2 separate regions of the Homo sapiens genome follow, and region 2 is linked to region 1. The links come from fine-mapping of genetic effects on gene expression. Tissue or cell type: whole blood. Region 1 holds a variant in brackets; the other region holds the start of a gene. All regions are shown on one strand. Distances are from middle to middle. Region 1 overlaps APTX (aprataxin). Region 2 holds the start of DNAJA1 (DnaJ heat shock protein family (Hsp40) member A1).

Region 1 (12,798 bases):
AGTCCTTGCCCTCAGAAAAAAATCCTTACCATGTACCTTGTTTTTTCCTGTAAACATGCACACTGCTGGCTGGAGTGTGACCCCCCCACAGCAAGGTTTCCCAAGGGTTCTGAACTTAGAGAGTTGGCATCTGCAGCACTGATTATGATCTTTCCTATATGAGTTAATCTAAGTGGAGGGATACAAAGCCATGCTTGAGCTGAGTAGGCCCAAGATGCAGAAGCAGTGGCTGCTTCTCTCTCTGTTCCCTTCCTCACAACAGCAACTGAAGGGGCATGTATGTGGCACCCTGTCCTCTCTGGGGAGCAGCTATGGTGGTTCTTCTTTCCTCCCTGTCTCAACTCCAGATACCTTGTTCATTTATCAGAACAGGAATGCTTAATGTTACCACTTCTCACACATGCTCAGATTGTTCTGTCTCTGCAATCATCTTTCTAGAACATTCTTTCCACTCCTTCTACCCAAAGCCACCTGAGTTTCTGTTTTCCAGGAATGTGTCTTTTACTGTTTTATCTTTTAAAGCATCTAATAGTTGTTGTTTTTCCAAAATAATAGTGGAAGCCTGATTTAATCCTTGGTCAAGAGTTCGTGTGAGAAATGGATCTTTTTTTTTTTTTTTTTTTTTTTTTTTCCTCCTGAGATAGGGTCTCACTCTGTTGCCCAGGCTGGAGTGTAGTGGTGCGATCTTGACTCACTGCAACCTCCACCTCCTGGGGCTCAAGTGATTCTCCCACCTCAGTCTCCCAAGTAGCTGGGACTACAGGCATGTGCCACCACACCTGGCTAATTTTTGTATTTTTTTGTAGAGACGGGGTATTGCCATGCTGCCCAGGCTGGGAGAAACAGGTCTTCTTTTCTGGCGGCAGAGTCTGTGATCATGAGCAGGCCAGGGGTTCTGGAATAGGGAAACTTGTGGGGATTAATTGAAGCTGCCTCATAGGGATCTTGGCAATAGCTAAGGGAGTATGTACGCTGTTGGACATTTTATGGAAGGATTTAAACCTTTAGAAATTGGTAGGATTTGGAGCTCCAGCCACCTGCAATAACAGGTGATTGCTAATAGGCCTTTAAGGAAACACCACCTGTTCAGCTGCCGCCTGTAGTGAAGCTTGTTTTCTTTAGGGAAGATAGGAGCAAGTGCCTGGTTCTTTGTTGCATTTGTGTTTAACTTTTTCCAATCTCTTTCAGTACAGTTGAAAGCAGAGTGTAACAAGGGATATGTCAAGGTAAAGCAGGTAGGTGTATTTATAACTTGGAATTTTATACTCGATGATTTTCTTATGCTGTTGACTTTAGAGTGTCTGTGCCAGCCAGTGAAGGCTTCTCTGTCATGTATGGAAGTGATGGAGTAATATAGGTGAACATAAGGCAAGGTGCTTGGCATATAGTAAGTGGTTAACATAGCAGTGGCTATCTTACTGTAGGTGCTGTTGCTATTATTATAATTATTTTCTGATTGTTTATTCCATAGGTAGGAGTCAATCCCACCAGCATTGACTCAGTCGTAATTGGGAAGGACCAAGAGGTGAAGCTGCAGCCTGGCCAGGTTCTCCACATGGTGAATGAACTTTATCCATATATTGTAGAGTTTGAGGAAGAGGCAAAGAACCCTGGCCTGGAAACACACAGGAAGAGAAAGAGATCAGGCAACAGTGATTCTATAGAAAGGGATGCTGCTCAGGAAGCTGAGGCTGGGACAGGGCTGGAACCTGGGAGCAACTCTGGCCAATGCTCTGTGCCCCTAAAGAAGGGAAAAGATGCACCTATCAAAAAGGTGAGGGTAGTGTGATTGGTAGATGATGTGGAGAAGAAATGAAATATAATGACTGCTTAATTGTTTTGTACACTTTAAAGTTCAGAAATGCGTGAGGGGTTATTAACCATGATGAAAGAGTCACTTGTTTGTGGCGTGAAAATCATTTGGATGAATGTTCCTTTATGTGCTTTTTTCTTAAATTCCTGAGGTAAGCCACCTGAAGGTACAACAATAATGGCAGTGTGTACTTAACATTGAACAACTAAAGTGGATCAGTTGTTTATGCATCTATAGAAGGTTTTCATAGATCATGTAATTCATATGCTGATGTCAAAGTGGAGAATTGGTCAGGCTGTAGCTGCAGTGAGAGAGGGCAAAGAAGGTATGACTCATACTCTGGCATTTCTCGCCTTCATTTAGAACAGCCAGCTGTGAATATAGGAAGGCTGGCTGGGTGCAGTGGTTCACGCCTGTAATCTCAGCGCTTTGGGAGGCCGAGGTGGGCAGATCACTTGAGGGTCAGGAGTTTGAGACCTGCCTGGCAAACATTGTGAAACTCCATGTCTACTAAAAATACAAAAATTAGCTGGGCCTGGTGGTACACACATGCTTGTAATCCCAGCTACTCGGGAGGCTGAGGCGGGAGGATTGCTTGAACCTGGAAGGCGGAGGTTGCAGTGAGCTGAGATTGCACCACTGCACTCCAGCCTGGGCGACAGAGCGAGACTCCATCTCAAAAAACAACAACAATAATAAAAAACAGCTGGGTGTGCTGGCTCACGCCTGTAATCCCAGCACTTTGGGAGGCCGAGATGGGCAGATCACCTGAGGTCAGGAGTTCGAGACCAGCCTGACCAACATGGCAAAACCTAATCTCTACTAAAAATACAAAATTAGCTGGGCGTGGTGGTGCATGCCTATAATCCCAGCAACTCCAGAGGCTGGGCAGGAGCATCGCTTGAACCCGGGAGGCAGAGGTTGCAGTGAGCCGAGATCACGCCATTGTACTCCAGCCTGGGCAACAAGAGCGAAACCCCATCTCAAAAAAAAAAAGAAAGAATATAGGGTCGGGTGTGGTGGCTCACGCCTGTAATCCCAGCACTTGGGGAGGTGGAGGCCAGTGGATCACCTGAGGTGAGGAGTTCAAGACCAGCATGGCCAACCTGGTGAAACTCCGTCTCTACTAAAAAATACAAAAGTTAGCTGGGCGTGGTGGTGGGCACCTGTAATCCCAGCTACTTGGGAGGCTGAGGCAGGAGAATCACTTCGGAGGTTGCAGTGATCACGCCGCTGCACTCCAGCTTGGGTGAGACAGAGTGAGACTTTGTCTCAAAAAAAAAGAGAATATAGGAAGGCAATGGAGTGAAGCAGAGTCAAGTGAATCTTGTTTAATTCTCAAAAACTAAGCTTATTTCCAAGTTTAGTTGTGCTATCACACAGTATTAACTGTTGCCAAATTTAATTATTGGCATTTGTAATTTACATTGCTTGTTTTTTTTTTTTTTTGTTTTTTTTTTTGTTTTTTTTTTAGGAATCCCTGGGCCACTGGAGTCAAGGCTTGAAGATTTCTATGCAGGACCCCAAAATGCAGGTCAGAATACAATTTTGGAATTTCAGTACATTTCATGTTGTAAATGACCACTCCACAGAGGTCTTAATTACAAATGAAATCAAAGGATATCAGTCTTTCTGAATGAGATTCATTTTATTGGGCTGTTCTGTGAGAACAAGAGGCTTTTCACATTGGCAATAAAGTAGCAGCTGTCATTGTTTGGAGAGAAAGCTGAGTTCTTCAAATGAATATCCCCTCTGCCTTGTGCCTTTTAAACTTCTGGGTACTTTAAGGGAAGTTGCATTAACCTTAGTATGGTTCCTTTCAGGGGAGCATCAGAGATAATACACTGTGACAGTAGTACTGTGCTGCCCTGGCATTAACAGTCAGACATCCCTGTAATCCCAGCACTTTGGGAGGCCGAGACGGGAGGATCACCTGAGGTCAGGAGTTCGAGATCAGCCTGACCAACATGGAGAAACCCTGTCTCTACTAAAAATACAAAAAATTAGCTGGGCATGGTGGTGCATGCCTGTAATCTCAGCTACTCGAGAGGCTGAGGCAGGAGAATCACTTGAATCCGGGAGGTGGAGGTTGCGGTGAGCTGAGATTGCACCATTGTACTCCAGCCTGGGCAACAAGAGCGAAACTCCATCTCAAAAAAAAAAAAAAAAAAAAAAAAACAGGCATCATCCTTGAGGAGCCTTTGAGTCCCACTTCAATTATATTCCTTGTTGACAAGGGGCAGGTCTAATAGGGCTCACTGGAACCCACGTGTACGTGTCACACAGTCTGCCATGTTGGAGTGGAGAAGGATGCTTTTGAATTTATGTCTACAGAGATTTTACATCACATTCTTGGGAACTATTTTGTACTGTGCATCTTCTGTGTATTCTGTGTAGTGTGGTGGTTGAAAACAGACTCTGGAGTCAACCACATCTGAGTTGGAATCCTAGATTTCCCTCTTAGGAACTATGACTTGTGCAAGACACTCAACCTGTCTGAATTTCAGTGCTCTCCTCTCTCAAAACTGGGCTATTAAAACCATTTGCACAAGACTGTGGGAATTAAGTGACTTAGTGAATATAACAACCAGGCACACAGAAGATTCTTAGTAGATGTCTGTTTCCTTCTCTTGTATCCCTCTGCTAGGTTTACAAAGATGAGCAGGTGGTGGTGATAAAGGATAAATACCCAAAGGCCCGTTACCATTGGCTGGTCTTACCGTGGACCTCCATTTCCAGTCTGAAGGCTGTGGCCAGGGAACACCTTGAACTCCTTAAGCATATGCACACTGTGGGGGAAAAGGTGATTGTAGATTTTGCTGGGTCCAGCAAACTCCGCTTCCGATTGGGCTACCACGCCATTCCGAGTATGAGGTAAGCCAGGTGGGTAGTGCTGCTGGCTCCTGGTTCTGTCCAGGTGGGCAGATAGATTCAGCCTGGGCTTGCTGAGGGCACATATTGCACTGAGACCCAGGGAAGTGGGATGGAGTTTTTCCAAAGCAGGTGGGCTGAAGCTTCCACCTCTCTGCCTGACTTGCATGCAAGCTTTGAGTTCCCACTTCTGCCTATAATTCAGTCATATTTGGTTCTTTGTTCCTCTCAAAATATAAA[T/C]CTTCGAGAGCCTAATATATGAACTAGATGAAGCAGCTTCATTATCCTCAGATAAAGAATTGTGGTCAGTGGCTTTTATCAGATTCTTCAAAAGCGTCTATAACCCCAGAATGATTAAGGACCATTACTCTGAAGGAAACAAACATCATAGACTTCTGTAATGACAGCGTAGTAGATCCAGGATTTGAAAATAAAATGAGAGAAAAGTATAGAATTTGTTTTCCTGTGGCTTATGCCCAGAAGGATTCAGAAAGGAATGACTGATTTCTTTCAAAGAATACAAGCAAGGTGGATCTCCGTGATTTCTTTGATTTAAGCAATAAGATGATAAGTCTAGATTTTAGAGTTTTTATTTTGTTTTTAAAAAACTGTGATATAATATACATAACAAAATTTACATTTTAGTCATCTTTAAGTGTACAATTCATTGGCATTACTATATTCATATTACTATGCAACCATTACTACCATCTATCTCCAGAACTGTTTTCTCTTCCCAAATTGAAACTCTGTACCTTAAATAATAACTCTCCATTTCCCCCTCCCACTCCTGGCAACCACCATTGTACTTTCCTTCCCTGTGAATTTGACTACTCTAGGTACCTCATATTAGAGGAATCATACAAGGACATATTTGTCCTTTTGTGACTGGCTTATTTTACTTATTTACTTACTTATTTTACTTTACATAATGTCTTCAAGTCTTATCCATGTTGTAGCATGTGACAGGATTTTCTCTGCTTATTTTTTTTTAACTACCAACACTCACATTTTATTTAGGTGAATAATTATGACTTAGGTTACTGGCCACTTGAACCAAATGAAATCTTTGTGCCAGATTTTTCCCTAGTCAGTACTGATTCTTTTAAGTTGAGGCATAACTTACATACAATAAAGTGCATAATAAGATGCATAGTTTGATCAGTTTTCATAAGCGTGTATAATCTTTTCACTATCATTCTGATTAAGATACAGAAGATGTCTATCCTTTCATCCCAGAAAGTTCCCTTGTGCCCCTTTCCAGTTAATCCTCCCTCAAGCATTGCTTTTATTTCCTTCAGCATAGATAGTTTTTGTCTCTTCTAGAGCTACCATGTATAAATGGAATCATACATTGCATACTCTTTTTTGGTCTGGCTTTTTTGGGTCAGCATAATTTTGAGATTCATGTGTGTTATTGTGTATATCATAGACATATGTACTTTATTTATTTTTTTCCCCTTGAGTAAATATTTAGGGATCCCAGTCTGGGCAACATGGCAAAACCTGTCTCTACAAAAAATACAAAAAATTAGCCAAGGGTGGTGGTGCACACCTGCTACTTGGGAGGTTGAGTTGGAAGGATCACTTGAGCCCAGGAGGTTGAGGCTACAGTAAGCTATGATCACGCCATTGTACTCCAGCCTGGGCAACAGAGTGAGACTCTGTCTCAAAAAAGAAGAAGAAAAAAAAAGAATAAATATTTGGAGATGGAATTGTTAGGTCATAGGGTGGATGTATGTTGTACCTCACTTTAAAAATATAAATATATTTTTATTGTTAAAGGCTGATTTGAAAATTTAGGAGGGAAAGTCACCCATAATCCTGTTTCCCTAATGCAGAGCCCCTGACTAACAGAGCCCTTGGCCACTGAGCCCTTTTCACGTAGTGATCGTGATGCCCATACCTTTTTCCTACAGTGAATGTTGTCGTGCTAAGGAGAATGCTCACAGCAAGAGCTGTGGTAGGTATATATGGGAGGCAAAATGAGCCAATAAGCAAAGTTGCTATTTATATACCCTTTTATATTACTCTGTATGATGTAGTTTTGAATAAATGAACATATTAGAAAGGAAAAGGTGATAAACAAGTAAAATTATTTTTCCTATTGTAAAAGTAATGTTTTCAATTAAGAAAATATAAAAAATTAAGTATGAAAAAGAACAAAGACCTTTCATAATACTAACTGTAGATAACTAAACTATAGACCTTATTTTAGATAACTTACTAAACTGTAGACCTTATTTGAATTTCACCCATTTTTCCTGTATTGTTCTTTTTCTACTCCAGAATCCAATCTCACATTTCATTTATTTGTTCTCTCTTCTTAGTCTCCCTCAATCTGTGACAGTTCCTACTTTCCTGGCTTTCATGACCTTGACACTTTTGATGAATACTGGCTAATTGTCTTTAGGACGTCTTTTAATTTGGGTTTGTCTAATTTTGTTTTTCATGATTAGGTTGACGTTATGCATTTTTTTAATCACTGAAGTGATATTTCTGATTGTGTCCTTCTCAATATGTCATATGGGGGGGCATGATGTTGAGATGGTTTATTACTGATGATGTTAACCTTGATCATTTTGTTAAGGTGGTGTCTGCCAGGTTTTCACCTTCAAAATTACTGTTTTTTTTTTTTTAATTCATGAATATTTTGGGTTAGATATTTTGAGACTATACTACTATTTCTCCTCAAACTCGCACCCAATGATTTTAGCATCTATTGGTGCATCTTGCCTGTAATAGTTATTGTATTGGTATTTACTCTATGGTGACTTTATACTTCCTTCACCTAACTTATTAGTTGAAATTATTCTGTGTGAAAGCGCTGTTCTGTCTTTCTCATTAGTTCTTTATTCAATCATTTAATGGTATGGACTCATGGATGTTTATTCTATAGGTTATAATTCAATACTATAATTATTTTGTTGCTCAAATTGTTCAGCTTTGGTTATTGAAAGCTCCTTTAGGTCAGCTCTTGTGTCACTTAGATACGCCTTCAACATCTTTTGGGCAATTTATTTTCTGGCCCCACAAGATGTTCCAGGCTTATCTGGAATGAACCACTTCTCCAAAGAGCCCTAGGTCTTCTTGGGCACTAGGTTTCTGTGAGAGAAGTGGTTGATTCCAGGGTGTCCTTGCTTTCTAGGTCCTCTCAGCCATAGAGCCAGAAATGCATGTATGAATCCTAAGCCATACACACACACACACATACACACCCCTATAATTCTGTGTTTATCTACCTTTATTTGTATGTGAAAAACCATGAGTTCATACTGATATCTCTGACACCATTCCAACTCTAAGTTTCATTCTTGTTTCCCTTTTCCTTTTTTGTAACTACTTTCTCCAACAGTGAGAAACCTGGCTCTCATTAGTTACAATAAATTCATTTACTTGTTCAGTCCTAGTGTACCCATAAAATAGTTACAGGATTCCTAACCCATACCCCTGTGAGAAGGACATTTACTAACTAGAGTACAGTACTTGCCTATAGTTCTTTTTGTTTTTAGCCTTATCGTATCTAGTCAAAACACTGTTCTCCAAAGCTAGGTTACTATAGTATAGTTAATATATTTTCTTCCTCAATCCATTTAGTGTGGTTTCCTCATTCATTTGTAATACAGCTATGCTTATTTATTAGTGCTTATATTTCATTTTGGATTCTGCACACATGTTGATTGATTTTGATTATTTATTGGGAGAACGTGAAATATTACTGATTATAAGAGTGAAAGCTGTTATACAAAAAGGCATTCTACTTGGTTTAACAAGTCCAAAAGAGAATTCCTGATTTTCTTCCCCAAACCTGCTTTTTCACCTAACCTTCTTTATCTCAGTAAGTAACACTCTCCCAAAGCAACATGCAGCCCATTAATAAGTTCTGTTTGTTCTATTCCAAAATGCATTCAAAGTAGGATTGCTTGTTGACATCTCAGCTGCTACAGCTCAGCTCTAGTGTAGGCTGTGATTTTCTGGCCTAGACTGCTGTAGCAGCCTCCTTAACTGGTTTCTCCATGTTCCTCCCTATCCGTCCTTTCTTCACACAACAGTCAGAGTGATCTTTTAAACATGTAAATCAGGTTGCCCCTGTGGGCTTGGTTTGTGAGGAAGAGCCTGGCTCAGCCTGTCAGGACCACTGAGGCTTGTTTCTTGCCATCCTTTCCACCTCAGTTTTACACACTTCTCACCTCCAGCTGGCTGGGTGTGGGGAAGACCTGCCAGAGCCACATTGGACAAGGTGGTTCCCATTGCCAAGTAGATGGACAAGATGGTGCAGAAGAATACAGCTGGAGCATTGGATTTGCCAAAGGAGCTTAAAAATATTCCCATGACCATGGAATTATTACAGCCCCCAGAAGAATCAGAATATCAGTTAATGCTAATGGCAAGCAGCATAAAGATGAAGAAGTTACATCTTTAACAGTCTGTCATGAAATCTGGGAAAAAGTTACTATCAACCGAGAAAGACCCTGAAGAAAAGAAAAAAGAACCTGCAGTTACATTGCAGAATAACTCTGAAGCGAGAGAAGAAAGTAGCTCCGGTGGCAGTGCAAGCAGCAGAGAGGGTGAGACAAATGCTCTAGATACTCGTGTTTCATCTTTTATTCAGGAACGAAGCACTTCTGACTCTCTTTGGTTAAAGTGTTGCGAGGTGCTTGCTGCAGCTCTCCAAACAGGAGATGGCTACACTGCTATTGGAGCTGGTGAGGAAGAATTAGGATCTCAAATTGAGGAGGCTGTATATCAAGAAATTAAGGAATATAGGTACGAAATGCAAAAGTAGAGTATGAAGTAGGATATCAAATCTTAAAGAGCAAAGAATCCAAATTTAAGGGAAAATGTACCATGTGAGAATATTCCTCCTGTCTTATTTGCTAGAATGATGGCAGAGGAAATGGCTAGTGATGGGCTCAGAGAGATATGGAAAAACTTGACCAAAGAAGTCATCAGAGAGCATTAGGTGGCCAAGGCAGGTGGAACCCAGAGTGGCTTGTTCACATGTGCAAATGTAGTGCTGATGGACTGATAACATTCGTTGTCTGTAATGAATGTGGACGTCAGTGGAAGTTCTGTTGAGTTGGAATAACTACCAAAATATCTGGACTATTAAGAAATTAGATTTTGTATGTTCATTGCAGCACTATTCACAGTAGCAAAGACATGGGATCAACCATGATTGATGCCCGTCAGTAGTAGACTGGATGAAGAAAATGTGGTACATATACACCATGGAATACTACACAGCCATAGAAAAGAACGAGAACATGTCCTCTGCAGCAACATGGATGGAGCTGTAGGCCGTTATCCTAAGTGAACTAACACAGGAGCAGAAAACCAAATACCACATGTTCTCACTTATAAATGGGAGCTAAATACGGAGCACACATGGACACAAAGCAGGGAATGACAGACACTAGGGCCTATTTGACAGTGGCGGGAGGGAGGTGGGGGAGGATTGAAAAACTGCCTATGGGGTACTATGCTTATTACCTGGGTGGCGAAACAATCTGTATAGCAAACTCCTGTGACATACAATTTACCTATATAGCAAACCTGCACATGGATCCCTGAACCTAAAAGTTTTAAAAAGTTACCTATATTAAATATATTAATGATAGAAAAAAAGGAGAACCAACTTGGTAGTTAGCAAAACATAAGTTATATCCAAAAAAATATGCTTTTAGTAGTGTGATGGGACAGAAGCCCAATCATAGTAAATGGATCAAAAAGTGAATATCAACAATAGAGCTTTAGGGTTTGCGAACCACTGTTGTAAGAAAGTGGGTCATGGAAGTGGAGTCAGCAGAAACAGTGCTCATCTGGCTTGTAGTTAAGGGAGAATTGTAGCCTTTTCCTGTCCTGCTCTCCTGTCCCCCACCATGGATATTGAAGGTGGGAGGATACATACCATAAATGTTTATGGGACAGGTGATACCTCATTTAAAATCTGCTGTCTATTATTTATCAGAAATTGCACTTGAGCTTTATTTCTTTCATTTCATCATCTTAGCAACCCTGTAAAGTAGGTATCTTCACTTCCATTTCACAGATAGTGTTGCTGGGGCTTAGAAAATGATAACCCCAAATAAAGGCCTCAGAAGCAAAATTTCTCCTTGACCTTCTCCTGCTCCCGTCTCTTGCCCCTCATTCTCCCCCTAAGCAAGCCATAGAAACTATAATTCCTCTTTCTCAAGGCAGGTTATAGAAACTAGAACCTTCTTCCTCAAAGCCAACCAAAAACCCCAAAATATTACTCTAACCTTCTTTTCTATGTAGACCTGGCTATAAAGAAATTCCCTGATCTACCTTGTTTGATGGTAGGTCATAAGACTGCCATTCCCATACCTGGGAAGAAGGAATGCTGCACAAAGAGGTTAAGAAGAATCTGGACAGACAGGCCTTGCTGAGTTTCCCCACTCAGTCTATTCTCATTAAGTCGTATACCCTTTTGAAGCAGTAGTGGTTCTACATGGCTTTCCATTCTTCAACAAACCCAAGTGTAAAAATGGATAGTTTTCCCCGTATCTTTGCATCTTCATTTGGAAGGCTCCTGTGTCACATAAAACTTGGATTAAATAAATTTGTTATGCTTTTCAAAAAACAAAAAAGGATGGATTTTGTAATTAGATTTAAAACTGGCCAAGCAACTAGTTTTCCTACAAATTAGATTTTTAAAGCAACACACTTGGGTTAGTCCTTGTTTTTGACCTAATGCCCCTTCTTTAAATACCTTCTTATATCAGAGACCATATGATAATTATATGGTATCTGTTTCCGTTTTTTTTTTCTTTTTCTTTTTTGAGACAGAGTCTCACTCTGTTGCCCAGGCTGGAGTGCAGTGGTGCAATCTCAGCTCCCTGAAACCCCTGCCTCCTGGGTTCAAGCTAGTCTCATGCCTCAGCTGTCCGAGTAGCTGGGATTACAGGCATGCGCCACCACGCCCAGCTAATTTTTGTATTTTTAGTAGAGATGGGGTTTTGTCATATTGGCCAGGCTGGTCTTGAACTCCTGGCCTCAAATGATCCACCTGCCTTGGCCCCCCAAAGTACTGGGATTACAGGTGTGAGCCACTGCACCCAGGTTTTTTCCCCCCCATTTTTATAAATGAATTTTTTTATTCATTTTTTGTTTTCGTTTTTGTTTTAAGAGATGGGAGTCTCACCCTCTCTCCCAGTCTGGAGTACAGTGTCAAGATCATAGCTCACTGCGGCCTTGAACTCCTCGGCTCCAGGTATCCTTTTGCCTCAGCCTCCCGAGTAGCTGGGGCTATGGGTGTGCCACCATGCCTGGCTGATTAAAACAATTTTTTAGAGATGAGGGTCTCACTATGTTGCTCAGGCCAATGTTGAACTCCTGACCTCAAGTGATCCACCTGCATCAGCCTCCTGAGTAGCTGGGATTACAGGTATGAGCCACGTGCTTGGGTCATTTTTATAAATTGATATGAAACTTTTATCAATTAAAATTCTGGTAATTTATTTTTATCTCTTAAGTGAAAATGTACCTTGACTTTTTTATTTTTTAACGGTTTAAAACATGTGCAGTAGAAATTCTCTGTTAATACATAAATGGAAATTACATTTTTTTTCATATTGGCGTGTATCTACAAATATTAAAGGACAAGAAAAGGTAATATAATTTTAGGTTTAACAAATATGGTGTATATTCAAATAATACTTGACCAGCTTATCTAAATTGTACATAATATTTGGACTAGCATATGAATTTGATTTTAATTATTATGTTCACAAGCCTGGGATAATTAGATGTTATTTTGCATCTGTAACTGTAATCATTTCTTGTAATTTCTTGTGCAGGTGTATTGTACTTAATAGATTTTACTTTTGGAAATATGACTGTTGAAATTAGCTTAGCTTTTATTTACTGTTTGTAGAGTATTTTCGTTTTGGAGAAGAACACTGTTTTAGTTTAGGACGCTTTTCAAGAGTGAAAGCTTCTGATGATTTTTTTCCCTCATAGGAAGAAATACTGGAAAGAAAATGTTAGTATAATGCAGTTATTGTAACAGCTTATGACTTGATTTTGATTTGGAAACCTATACTGACCAGATATTAAGCTTAAGGATTGTATAAATCATTAAAGCTGTGGTC
Region 2 (12,798 bases), 42 kb before region 1:
TGAACCCAGGAGGCAGAGGTTAGAGTGAGCCAAGATCGCATCACTGCACTCAAGCCTGGGCAACAGAGCAAGACTCTACCTCAGAAAAAAACAAACAAACAAAAACATGCCCATTGGTTTAAAAAATAAACATGAGGCGGGGTGCGGTAGCTCATGCCTGTAATCCCAGCACTTTGGGAGGCCGAGGCAGGTCATCACCTGAGGTCAAGTGTTCGAGATCAGCCTGGCCAACATGGTGAAACCCCGTCTCTACTAAAAATACAAAACATTAGCCGGGCATGGTGCTGGGTGCCTGTAATCCCAGGTACTTGGGAGGCTGAGGCAGAAGAACTGCTTGAACCCGGGAGGCAGAGGTTGCAATGAGCTGAGATCGTGCCATTGCACACTCCAGCCTGGGAAACAAGAGCGAAACTCCGTCTCCAAAAAAACCATGAATTTTTATGAGACCCAATTCTTCACCTAACTCCCCTTTCAAATCCTTAAAAGTATGCCTATCCCTTGATCTAGTAACTCCTAATTAAGAATGTGTACAATTCTAATGTTTTAAAAGATGGAAGAACTATGGTTTAACAGGAGAGAATTAAGTTTGGAACACTATTCAATCATTTACAGGACCACAGATTTCAAAAGATGATCCTGTTATATTAAATGAGGAGATTCCTAATATATTCTGTATTAGTAATATACCAATGTGCAAAATTATGTCTGGATAAAAGAACATTATTTACTAAGCTGCTAAGAGTTATTTCTGATTGATAGGATCATATATAACCTAATTAAGAATGATTTTTAAACAATTATAAAATGTTAATAATAAATCTGCCACAGCATTCAAGACTTCAGAATAAGTAACTCAGAACTCACCTTTGTCAATATGAACTTCTAAAATTTTCTTCTCTCGAACTATCTTCCTTCCGTTGCAGCTTTTACATCTATCTTTAGGACTGATCCGCTCCCCATGGCCCTGGCACTCCATGCACACAGACTGAATTTGCTGAACCATTCCAGGTCCTATCTGATGAATTCTTATTTGCATTCCAGTACCTCGGCAATTGGGACAGCACTCTACTGCTCCTTTCTTACCTCCTCTACCTAAATTTAAAAAGAAAATTAAATAATGTATGAATTAGTAGTGTATACAGTAGTAAATGTTTTAAGAAGACAATTCCTAAATGCTATACTTTTAATATTTTCGAAGCCTGATGGAATGCTACCCTCTGAATGTACAACTGATGAGATCATTCCAATGAGTTTCATTCTTATTAGAACACACTTTCCAATAAATTTTACTTATTACAAAAAAGATACCAAACTAGCTTGATCCCAACTGTATTTAAAATATACACAGAAAAAAGTGCTGATATTTCTTTAGGTGGGAGGTTTTCAGTTGGTTTTCTTCATATCTGCCCTCTCCTCCCCCAAAATCTAGGTAGTGTACATGAATCAATTTTACATATCTATCTAGAAGTCTTAGCTCCATTTTCAGGTGTCATATTAAAGGTGCTTAAAAACAAAACAAAACAAAACAAAAAAACACCGTACCTTCACATTTGTCACAAATCACATTCTTTTGCAGAGCCAGTTTTCTTGTTGCACCATTATATAAGTCTTCTAGGGTTACTGAGAGCTGATGTACAACATTTTTACCTAAAACAAAATATTTCTCATTGCAAATCTGTTTAAGATGCTGGATCTTATTTGTGCTAAAGGCACTATAAAGAATGTGGCAAAGAATAATAAAAGATGAGCCTCACAGGGTACATCTGTTGACTACCTACTATATACACAGAATGTTCACGTTATCACAGATGATCCTCAAACTGTGATGTAATCACAGATGAGGGAAAATCAGGTCAGAGATTAAATATTTGCTTAAGGGCACAGACGTGGCCATCTTGGAAATATGGTAAGCAAAAGCATTACCTTCAAAGTCACTTGAGAAAAACCAATGTTATTTAAAAGGGCACATTTCACAATAATCCAAACATTCATTTCTGTCACAATATATTTTTTGAAGCTTTCACTTCGTACCGTATTGAGCAACATGGCCAATTACTTCATCCAAAAATTCTGTAGCACAGTAAATTCTCATTAATCAAGATTGGCCAGGGAAGCTGATGTATTTATTGAGTCACCACAGAAGAGTATCAATTTCTACTTCTTCCTGATTTAGTAGAAAACAGCCCATTTACTGCTGGGCCAGCACTGGTTGTTTTGAAGGCCAAATTTCTCATACCTTTTATAATAGCATTGCCCAACAGAACTTTCTGCAGTGATAAATGTTTTATATCTGTTCTGTCCAACGTAGCAGCCACCAATCACATGTGCTTATTGAGCATGTAAATGTGGCCATTTAGACTAAGAAACCGTATTTTTGTTTTTGTCTTAAATTAATGGAGCCACACATGGCCAGTGGCTACTAAGGAGTGCCTTACTTCACTTAAATCAGAATAGGAAATGGAAGGTCAAGATCTCATAAGGACACTGAGGTTAGAAGTATGAAGTCACCTGCTAGTAAGTTAGTAAGTTCCTAACTAGTGGTCCTTCCACAAGGACTTATTCACAACAATATTATTGCCTTTCCACCAACTGAAAAAAGTTCTCAAACTCGTTTCTGTACAATATGCCTAATGAACATTTTAACTTTCTAATCAAGCATGAAATACCATTAATTATGTCCTTCTGCTTATAGTTCCACCTTTAGTTTTGGCACGCTAAAATCTAGCTGCCCTTATTTTGAACAGTGTTGAGTATAAGGAAGGAAAAATAAAGCTTCTAGAGCTTGATGAAGCGCATTTCCCCAGAAATAACCTCTCAATATGATCATAAGCCACATAAAAGAGCTTGCCAATGTTAACCTGCAGGTTCTTTGTAAGGTAAGTGAAAAACCACCACTACTTTTTTGTGGACAAATTCTAACAATTTACTAAGCAAGTCATTTGGATTGTGGACTTTCTTTTTAAGGAGTTTAAGTATCTTAATAAAAACATAATCCTTTCCTTGAAGATCTTTAAAGAAAAACTGAATAAACAATTTCCCAAATCTTTCTGAACCTTAAGAAGCTCAAAGTGAAATTTAATGGCTTGGCCATTCATTCTAAAACTGGTTCTGCTCATCAGCCCTTATTTGTATACACTATACTGGAAATAAAGTGAGACTGATTTCTCTTGAACATTTTACTCCTATAAGCAGTATTTCTAGAGCCCATAGGCCACTTTCCTGATAAACATATTAAATACATAATTTTGACACAATAAAGCTGAAACAAGAATAGATAGATGGCAGGCAACGAACCAGTTTTCAGCCCTGGCTCTGTTGGCTTGCTATATGAGCTTGAAGAAGTTTTAGGTTTCTGAACTTTAACTTACTCCCATTTGAAAAAGGCCACTGTACCTACCATCAAATTCCTTTGGGGAGTGAGGGAACACCAAATAAGATCTGTAAAAAGGGCTTGGAAAATTATATTGCTATATACTTTGTCTTTTTTTTTTTTTTTTTTTTTTTTTGAGACAAGAGTCTCGCTGTGTTGCTCAGGCTGGAGTGTAATTGGGCGATCTCAGCTCACTGCAACCTCCACCTCCCGGGTTCAAGCGACTCTCCTGCTTCAGCCCTCCTGAGTAACTGGGATTACAGGCACGCACCACCATGCCTGGCTAATTTTTGGATTTTTTTGGGTTTTTTGTGACAGAGATTCACTCTTGTTGCCCAGGCTGGAGTGCAGTGGCGTGACCTCCGTTCGCTGCAACCTCTGCCTCCAGGGTTCAAGCGATTCTCCTGCCTCAGCCTCCAGAGGAGCTGGGATTGCAGATGCCCACCACCACGCCCAGCTAATTCTGTAGTTTTGTAGAGATGGGGTTTCACCATCTTGGCCAGGCTGGTCTCGAACCCTGACCTCAGTGATCCACCCACCTCGGCCTCCCAAAGTGCTGGGATTACAGAATGAGCCACAGCACGCGGCCTGTTCTCATAATTTGTTTGATAATATCTAAGATTTTTGGAAGCAGTCATTTGCTACCACTCTGTTGGCTATTTTTTAGGCCCCTTAAATCTCATTTTAAAAAAAGCGACACCACTGGCTGGGCATGGTGGCTCACACCTGTAATCCCAGCACTCTGGGAGGCCAAGGCAGGTGGATCACCACCTGAGGTTTGCAGTTCAAGACCAGCGTGACCAACATGGTGAAACCCCATCTCTACTAAAAATACAAAATTAGCCGGGTTTGGTGGCACATGCCTGTAATCCCAGCTACTTGGGAGGCTGAGGCAGGAGAATCGCTTGAACCCGGGAGGTGGAGGTTGCTGTGAGCTGAGACCACGCCATGGCTCTCCAGCCTGGGCAATAAGAGGGAAACTCCGTCTCAAGAAAAAAAAAAAAAAAACCACAACAAAAAAACACGACACCATAAATCAGAGGCAATTTGTGGTCAGTTTGCAACATTATACCAACATGTAAACAAGCATTTAAAATGGGTGATTTCTCAAAGATCTGCTCTGACCAACAGCTAACTTTAGTTAGCTGCACAAAGACTAGATTCTTCTTACCTCTCCTTTCTCTCTGCATCCTTCCTCCTCCTCCAAAAAACATATCAAAGATGTCCATGGGGGAGCCAAAACCGCCACCTGCTCCACCCTCTTTAATTGCCTGTTCTCCTCCTTTGTCATATAATTCCCTTTTCTTTGCATCAGAGAGAACTTCGTAAGCTTGAGAAATCTGTTTAAACTGTTTGAGAAAAGAGGAGTGAATTTCATTTTTTAAAAAACAAGTGTTACCTAGCTACATTACACTTGATCTTAGCTAAAAAGGCCGAGAAGTGATCATAGTTACTATATTAGATACTCGATTTCAGGCCATAATAGAAATACTATACGTCTGGCAAAGAACTATTCAGATACGTTTAAGAGTAGATACTATTCACCTTCTCTCCTTCATTTGGGTTCTTATCAGGATGGTACTTCAAAGCCAGTTTCCTATAAGCCTTTTTCAATTCTTCCTGAGTAGCATTGGGTTTGACCCCCAAAACATCGTAGTAAGTTGTTTCTTTCACCATCTTCTACTGCCTGAAATAAGAAAATGCAACTTTAACCGGCTTTCAACTGGTAGCTTTTAATAAAAAAGAGAGCTAAGGCCGAGCAATCTCTTTGCAAAATCCGATTATAAGAACACCACCTTCCCTAAATTTCACCAAAAAGGTAACAATTCCTGCGATAATTCAGCTATAAACTCGAACAGACAAAACAAATAATCATTATCGGGAAATAATCTGAGAGCCGCCTTCTAGCAGCTGGTTCCAATTTTCCTACACCAAAGCTTCCATACTAATATAACACAACTATTATCTGGATTCTTCCCGTTTGCCCTAGAGGCGGTGACAGTTGTAACCAAAAGAAGCACTGATATGTTCAGTCTACCGGTCATTACACTATCACTGTCTTTGGCAAATCTGATAAACTCCATATACTCTCCAGAAAAAGACGTCTGGGCACACAGTGGTGGGGGGGAGTGGTTTATAGAACAGGTTACTGGCTCCACACAGCAAGCCCTCCACCGCCCACGGCTTACAGCTTCTCCAGCCGAATCCCTCTCGCCCCTCAGGCTGGCAGAGTTTACCTGCCAGGTTTCCCCTTGCACTTGGCGCTGACCGATTTCCTTCCTTTCTCCCTCCCACCCTGGACCCAAGTGGCGGTGGGGAAAGCCCAGCCCTCAACAAACAAAGGGAGGGGAAACAGAGAAAGCGAAACCAAAAGCCGCAGTCTCCGCCCGGCTCCCCCCGCAGCCCCTCGCCCCTGCCTCCCTGTGCGCGTGCGCAGGGTCGCCAACCCCACTCCCCCCCCCCACCCCGAGCGAGCACGGACGGGGAGGGGGGCCGCGGGGGCGCGCACGGAGGGGCAGCCGAAGACAGTAGCTCCTTGGAGATCCCAGGCTGGGGAAGGAGGGAGGTCTAGGAAAGGTCTCGGGCCCATTCACTGTGCGTGCCGGGGATGGGTTGCCAGGGCACCACACCAGCCCTCCAAAAGGGAAATCGTGGGCCCAGGAACTGACAGCGGTCCTACCCACGCGGCCAACTGCCTCCCGACCGCGGCTCCATCGGTTTCCCGGCGCCAATGGCGCCAGCCAGGGGACTAGGGGCAGCGCGAGGGCTCAAACTCACCGGTGCGGGCTGAGGCCGGTGTGTGAGGGAGCGGGAAGGAGCGCCGAGCTGTGCGCAGCCGGGGTAGTTACCGCTCCTCCGCCTCTCACCGAGCGTTCTGGAAAGTTCCGCCCGGCGCGCCGCAGCCGTCCTCTTTTGTAGCCGAACCCGGGCGCGTCACCCGCCGGAAGTCCCGCCCTTCTCGGCCGCTGCCACCGCCCCGCCGTTACCTGGGCAACGGCGCGGGGGCGCACGGGTCGGGAGGAGCTGCGCCGAAAGGCCTTGTGGGTGTTGGTGCTAGCGCGGCTTCCCGGCGCTCGTGGAATCTTCTGGAGCCCTTTTCTCCACTCAGCGAGCCTGAGAGTGCGGAAGTCTCCGGCTGGTGGGGCATGGCCCAGGAGCACTGCAAGTCCTAGGGTTCCCAAACCTGTGGGGTGGCCGCCTGGGCCCGCGAGGGCGGGAAGGGCTCGAGTACAGTGACCCAGCGGGAGCTGTGTGTGAACGGGAAAGCTCTTGGAACAGTCTTGCCCCCCCCCCCCCCCCTCTTACGGGCGCCTCTTCTCTTTTTGGGAACGTGGCGAGCAAAAAATGCTTGAGCCAGGTGGGTCTAGTCCCCAGACCAATAGCATAGGCCTTGGGTCTTGCTGTTTTTCACGCGTGGTCCAAGGCGGCATAATTAATCAAATTGTGAAGTTGTTAAGGCTTTTTGTGCAAGTCCAGGCCCCTAGACACATGTTATCTGCCCTGGACCTCGCTGATTCGTGCAGATTGAGCTCAGTGTGTCTGGGACTGAGCTAAACAGTGAGACGTTTGGACCGTCTTTGATGTACAGAGGGCCGTGGACTCCTCTGGTCAGGTTTTCACCCAGTTTGGCTACAGAGTAGCCGCAAGAGTGTCTGACTAAAACAATTTGTTTAATTATTTGACCTCACTTTTAAATCCTACGGGTCAGGGAACCTGGATGTACAATCTGCAACGTAAGACCTCGGACTTGAAAATGGTACCACGGGGGCTTAATGGGAATTGGGGTCCGCTTCTTTATCCAGGGACACAGCAGGTATGTCAGTATCTAGCACCAAGAAAGATGGAGTTTGCCACGCTCGGTGGCTCACGTGTGTAATCCCAGCACTTTGGGACGCCAGCGTGGGCTGATTGCGTGAGCTCAGAAGTTTGATACCAGCCCAAGCAACATGGTGAAACCCCGTCTCGATTTAAAACAAAAACAGAACTGGAGATGCAGAGTTGAAAAGCCCCAGTTAGACTTTAGTGAGAAGCCAAACAAGTCAACAGACTGCCAGAGAAACCATGAGGTAGAAGTCAGTAGGGGAGAGCCTCCTATATTAACCTGATAGATCAGAGAGAATTTCTTTGGGAAAGTGGCAATTGAGCTGAGTTTTGAAAATGGGAGGAGAGCAGTGGACAAAGCACAGGGGAAGGCTATACTAAGGTGTGGAAGAATATGATGTTTTTAGGAAATTGCAACTAATTGGATATAGCCATAGCTAAGGGAGCTAGAATAGCCGGAGGTGAGGCTTCAAAGCTAGTTAGGGCATGCCTTTGTCTGTTGGTATATATGCTACGCTAAGAATTTTGAACTTTATCCTTGGAAGCATCCTCATGCTGCCTCTTCAGCCTTTTCTCTTTCATTAATTTTAACTGTGCATTCCAGTCACAGAACTATCCGCAGTTTCCCATATACGCCTTTTCACCTTTGTATGCTTTTGCATTGGCTGACAGACACCTGATTTTTTTCAATCTTAGGTGTTGCCTTCTCAAGTATCACCTCTGGTATAAAGTTTTTTGTTTAAACCAACCGTTAATAAACGTCTAATATTACCAGGCAGTGTACTAGGGCTTTGTAATACAAAAATCACGTAAGTCAGGCCGGGCGCCGTGCCTCACACCTGTAATCCCAGCACTTTGGGAGGCCAAGGTGGCGGATCACCTGAGATCCGGAGTTCTAGACCAGCCTGGCCAACTTGGTGAAACCCTTCTCTACTAAAAATAGAAACAATTAGCCAGGTATGGTGGCACGTGCCTGTAGTCCCACCTTCTCAGGAGGCTGTGGCAGGAGAATCGCTTGAACCTGGGAGGCGGAGGTTGCAGTGAGCAGAGATGGTGCCGCTATACTCCAGCCTGGTTGACAGAGCAAGACTCTGTCGAGTCTCAGAAAAAAAAAAAAATCACATAAGTCGTGGTCCCTGCCTTCAAGGAGCTCACAACATAGGGAACCAGAAACAAACAGTTGAGTGTTAAATGCTAATAAAGGAAGAGTAGGGGGTGCATGGTGGCTCAAGCCTGTAATCCCAGCACTTTGGGAGGCCAAGGCAGGCGGATCCCTTGAGTCCCGGAGTTTGAGACCAGCCTGAGCAACATAATAAGACCTCGTTTCTACAAAAATTAGAGTTAGTGTGGTGGTGTGGGCCTGTACTCCCAGCTACTTGGGAGGCTGAGGCAGGAGGATGGACCTGGGAGGTCAAGGCTGCAGTGAGTGGTGATTGCACCACTGAACCTCAGCCTGGACGACAGAGCAATACCCTGTCTAAAAACGAAACTAACAAAAAAGTTAACACTTTTAAGAAGCATTCTTACGTAAAATAAAATAAAAAAACTGGCAATAACTTTGTATGTGGTCTTCGTTTGTACAGAAATGGGATCATTATACAAGCTGTTTACAGCTTGCCCTTTTCACTTTGTCATCTTACTATGCCAGGATAAATAACTAATCTGCCTTGTTATTTTTAATGGCGTAGTATGTAGGCACCGTAATTTATTCCCCTACTGATGAATATTTCAGCAATTTCCAGTGTTTTACAAACTGCTGCAGAGAAATTAGCAAATACAGCTTTGAGTACTCATGCAAGTATTTCTGTTGGATGGACAGCTAGAATTGAAATTGCTGAGTCAACATGAATGTAGATTTAAAATTGTAATAAATAAGTTTCCATACTGGTTTGTAACTGCTTCCAGCAGTGTGTGAGTGGGCCTTGCCAATATGAGGGCCTTTTGTTGTTAAATCTTTGCTAAGCTTGGAGATAAAAAGTGATATCTTATTGTTTCGAGTTTCTTTGTTAGTAAGTTTAACCATGTTTTAAATGTTTACTGACTCTCCTGTCAACTGTTCATATTATTTTACCATTTTTCTGTGGTGTAATTCCACTATTTTAATAATAGCCCTTTTAGGGGTAGATATTAGTCTGTCATGTGTTACAATTGTTTTCTTTAGTATATTCTTCGCTTTTTACTTAGTATCTATATATATATTTTTCGGCCATATAAAGATTTTAATTTTTATGTAGATAAATTGTGACTCTTCCTTTTTGGCCTTTTTCTTCTCTCCACCTTCCCCTTCATCAGTCCAGCATTATAAATATAAATCTGTTGTCCCAGGTTTACAGGTTAGGTCTAGTACTTTCATTGTTTCCCTTTTTTTTTTTTTTTTTTAAATTAACAGCCTTGATGTGTTGCCCAGGCTGGCCTCGAACTCCTAGGCTCAAGTGATTCTCCTGCCTCAGCCTCTTCAGTACTTGGGACTACAGACACCTGCCACTGCATCTGGAATCATTGTTCCATTTTAAACTTAAATTTTTTATTCCATCTGAAAGTTATTTTGGTGTAAGGACTGAGGATTATTTGTAAGTAACTGATCTTTATTTTTCTCCAAATGGCAAACTAGTTTGTCTAACACTAATCTTATTTTTCCTGACTAATGTGAAATCCGCCCCCCAACCTTTTTTTTGTATGTGCAGAGATAGGGTCTTCCTATGTTGCCCAGGCTGTTCTTGAACTCCTGGGCTCAAGCAGTTGTCCTGCCTTGGTGTCCCAAAGTGCTGGTATTATAGGCGTGAGCCACCACACCTGGCCACCACTTTTAATGTATACTTAATTTCCACTGAAATACATGGTACTACTTCCCTTCATTGTTCTTGCTTTTTAGAATATTCCTTGTATTTTTTTTAATATGTTTATTCTTCCAGAGGAACTTAGGAATATTTCTGGCAGATTCCCCCCAAATCCCATTGTGAGTTTTATTGTGATTACAGTGATTTTATATATCAGTTTGGAGAGAATTAACACATTTAAAATGTCGAATCTTCCTACTCATGAACATATAACTGTATATTTATTTTCTTCATTTTTTAAACTAGGTCTTCATCATTTCTTCTTAAATGTGTTACTAGGCATTTTTTGTTGTTGCTGTCATGGATGGCCTCTTTTCTTACCATTATATTTTATTTCAGTGGGATATTTCATACTTTCTTTTTTTTTTTTTTTGAGACAGAGTTTCTCTCTTTTTGCCCAGGCTGGAGTGCAATGGAGCCATCTCGGCTCACTGCAGCCTCCGCCTCCCAGGTTCAAGCGATTCTCCTGCCTCAGCTTCCCAAGTAGCTGGGATTACAGGCATGTTCCACCACGCCTGGCTAATTTTGTATTTTTTAGTAGAGACAGGGTTTCTCCATGTTGGCCAGGCTGTCTTGAACTCCCAACCTCAGGTGATCTGCCCGCCTCGGCCTCCCAAAGTGCTGGGATTACAGGCGTGAGCCACCACGCCTGGCCAATAACTCAATAACCACATGGCCGTAAGTGTTCATAGAGGTAGCTGGAGATGGCTGGAGGCCTGGCAGGAGCAAAGTAATAAGGGCTTGGGCATTATGCTAAAAAGTTTGAATTTTGTTTTGAAGGCTCTTGAGAGACACTGGAGGATTTTAGGGATGGGGTGATATAACCTGTGACAGCTGACTTTTTGTTTCTTTTCTCTTTCCTCATCTGTTCTTTCTTTTGTGAGGACCTGCCAGGCACTGCGCTAAACACTCTACAAACGTTGCCATATTGTTATCCTCACAGTAACCCTTGTTTTAGAGCTGATTTGATTACATTTAAATTTCACAATAATCACTTGGGTGCTAATGCGAAGGTTGGATTCTTAGCAGGTTTTTATGGTGAGCGATGAGATCAGAAATGATGAGGCCTAAATAGAAGAAATGGAGAGGGAGAAAAATAAACACAAATATAAAAACATGTAAAGTCTTCAGGTAGAGTCATGATGACTTGATGCAGAGGTAGGGAGGAGGAATGACTTCCAGCTTTCTGGCTTTAGCAACAGGATGGTTGGAGATCCCCTTCCTGGGGTAGGGAGCCCAGAAGGAGGAAGAAGCCAGGGTAGGAGCAAAATTGGGTGAAGGAAAAGGTGAGTCCAGGTTTGAATGAGTACAACTACAGCTATACTTTTTTCTTTAGTTTACAAAGAAAAGGAGTCGGAGCCAGGGCGGTTATGTGGGACGTGGATGCAGACGCAGGCGGAGGCGCCAACTGCGGGGATGGCTAGGGTGATCACAGCTGCCCCGGGGGCGCGGACACCCCGGCAGCTCCGGCCAGCGGAGCTCCCCCACCGCACGTGTCAGGTCCTAGCAGAAACGCAGCGTCTGTGGCCAAGGGCCAGGAATGCGGCCGCACATATTCACCCTCAGCGTGCCTTTCCCGACCCCCTTAGAGGTGGAAATTGCCCATGGGTCCCTGGCTCCAGATGCCGAACCCCACCAAAGGGTGGTTGGGAAGGATCTCACAGTGAGCGGCAGGATCCTGGCCGTCCGCTGGAAAGCTGAAGACTGTTGCCTGCTCCGAATTTCCCTTATCAACTTTCTCGACCATCTTTCTCTGGTGGTGCGGACCCTGCAGCACTTTGGGCCCCCAGTTTCCCGCTAAGCCTGGCCTGGGAAAATGGGGCGAGGTCTAACCTTGCGTCTCCTCCTAGGCAGTGCATCCATCCTCCCTAGGGCAGGGAATTCCCACAGTTGCTACTTTCCCGGGAGGGCCTCATGGTCGGCCTGTACTGCCTTTGTGTGCTCAGGGGTCCCTTGTTTTCTCTGGTTCTTAAATGTTTGTTACCACAGAAAATAAAACTGAGCTACTATTAAAAAGAAAAAAGAAAAATTTTTATCGGCACAAAGTGGAAAGTAAATCCTAACTGAAATGCTATTTTTTATGTTTGTATAAATTAATTTAAATTTCTTAGAATATTTAGTTTTTAATTAACTGGGGCCAGACTTTTATTTATTTATTTATTTTTTGAGTAGCACCAATTTGTTGTGGTTCTTCTCTTCTGACTACGTACAATTTCAGTCTTTTTTATGAACTCTCTCCTTCATTCCTACCCCCACTCACCACCCTTCATTTTTTTAAACTGAACTTTATATTTAAGAATAGTTTTAGATTTGCGGAAAAGTTGTCAGGATAGTAGAGTTCCTGTTATTCCGCACTCAGTCTTAACCTATTGTTAAAATTTACATTAAAATGGTACAGTTCCCACAACTAATGAATCAACGTTGATACATTATTATTAACTAAAGTTCGTTCTTTATTTGGGTTTCTTTAATTTTTCCCTTTTCTGTTCCAGGATCCCACCAAGGACACCACATTACTTTGAGTTATCATATCTCTTTAGTCTCATCTTGACTGTGACAGTTTCTCAGACTTTACTTATTTTTAAGGACCTTGACAGTTTTGAGGAGTACATATCTTTCTTTTTGAGATGGAGTCTCGCACTGTTGCCTGGGCTGGAGCGCAATGGCGTGATGTTGGGTCACTGCAACCTCCGCCTCCCAGGTTCCAGCAATTCTCCTGCCTCAGCCTCCCCAGTAGCTGGGATTACAGGTGCCTGCCACCACGCCTGG

Evidence for each region. PIP is the estimated chance that this variant, and not a neighbour inherited with it, causes the effect.
Region 2: it holds the start of DNAJA1, and the variant in region 1 is fine-mapped to the expression of DNAJA1 in whole blood (INTERVAL, PIP above 0.99).

What each region holds. Positions count from the first base shown.
Region 1 is chr9:32,976,520-32,989,317 of GRCh38, reverse strand. APTX (aprataxin) reads left to right here. Exons shown (of 8, transcript NM_001195248.2): 3 at 1,189-1,235; 4 at 1,472-1,774; 5 at 3,288-3,347; 6 at 4,461-4,687. It also overlaps the pseudogene TCEA1P4. Among named protein-coding and RNA genes, the nearest start is that of APTX, 19 kb to the left of the region's middle. The variant T/C (reference allele first, on the strand shown) is at 4,925.
Region 2 is chr9:33,018,734-33,031,531 of GRCh38, reverse strand. DNAJA1 (DnaJ heat shock protein family (Hsp40) member A1) reads right to left here and starts at 6,259. Exons shown (of 9, transcript NM_001539.4): 1 at 6,149-6,259; 2 at 4,916-5,057; 3 at 4,542-4,719; 4 at 1,543-1,647; 5 at 865-1,092. The coding sequence starts at 5,047. It also overlaps a transcript of APTX not described here and the pseudogene LAGE3P1. RefSeq lists enhancers at 5,609-5,678, 5,635-6,229, 6,207-6,501, 6,824-7,419 and silencers at 5,779-5,918, 6,199-6,348.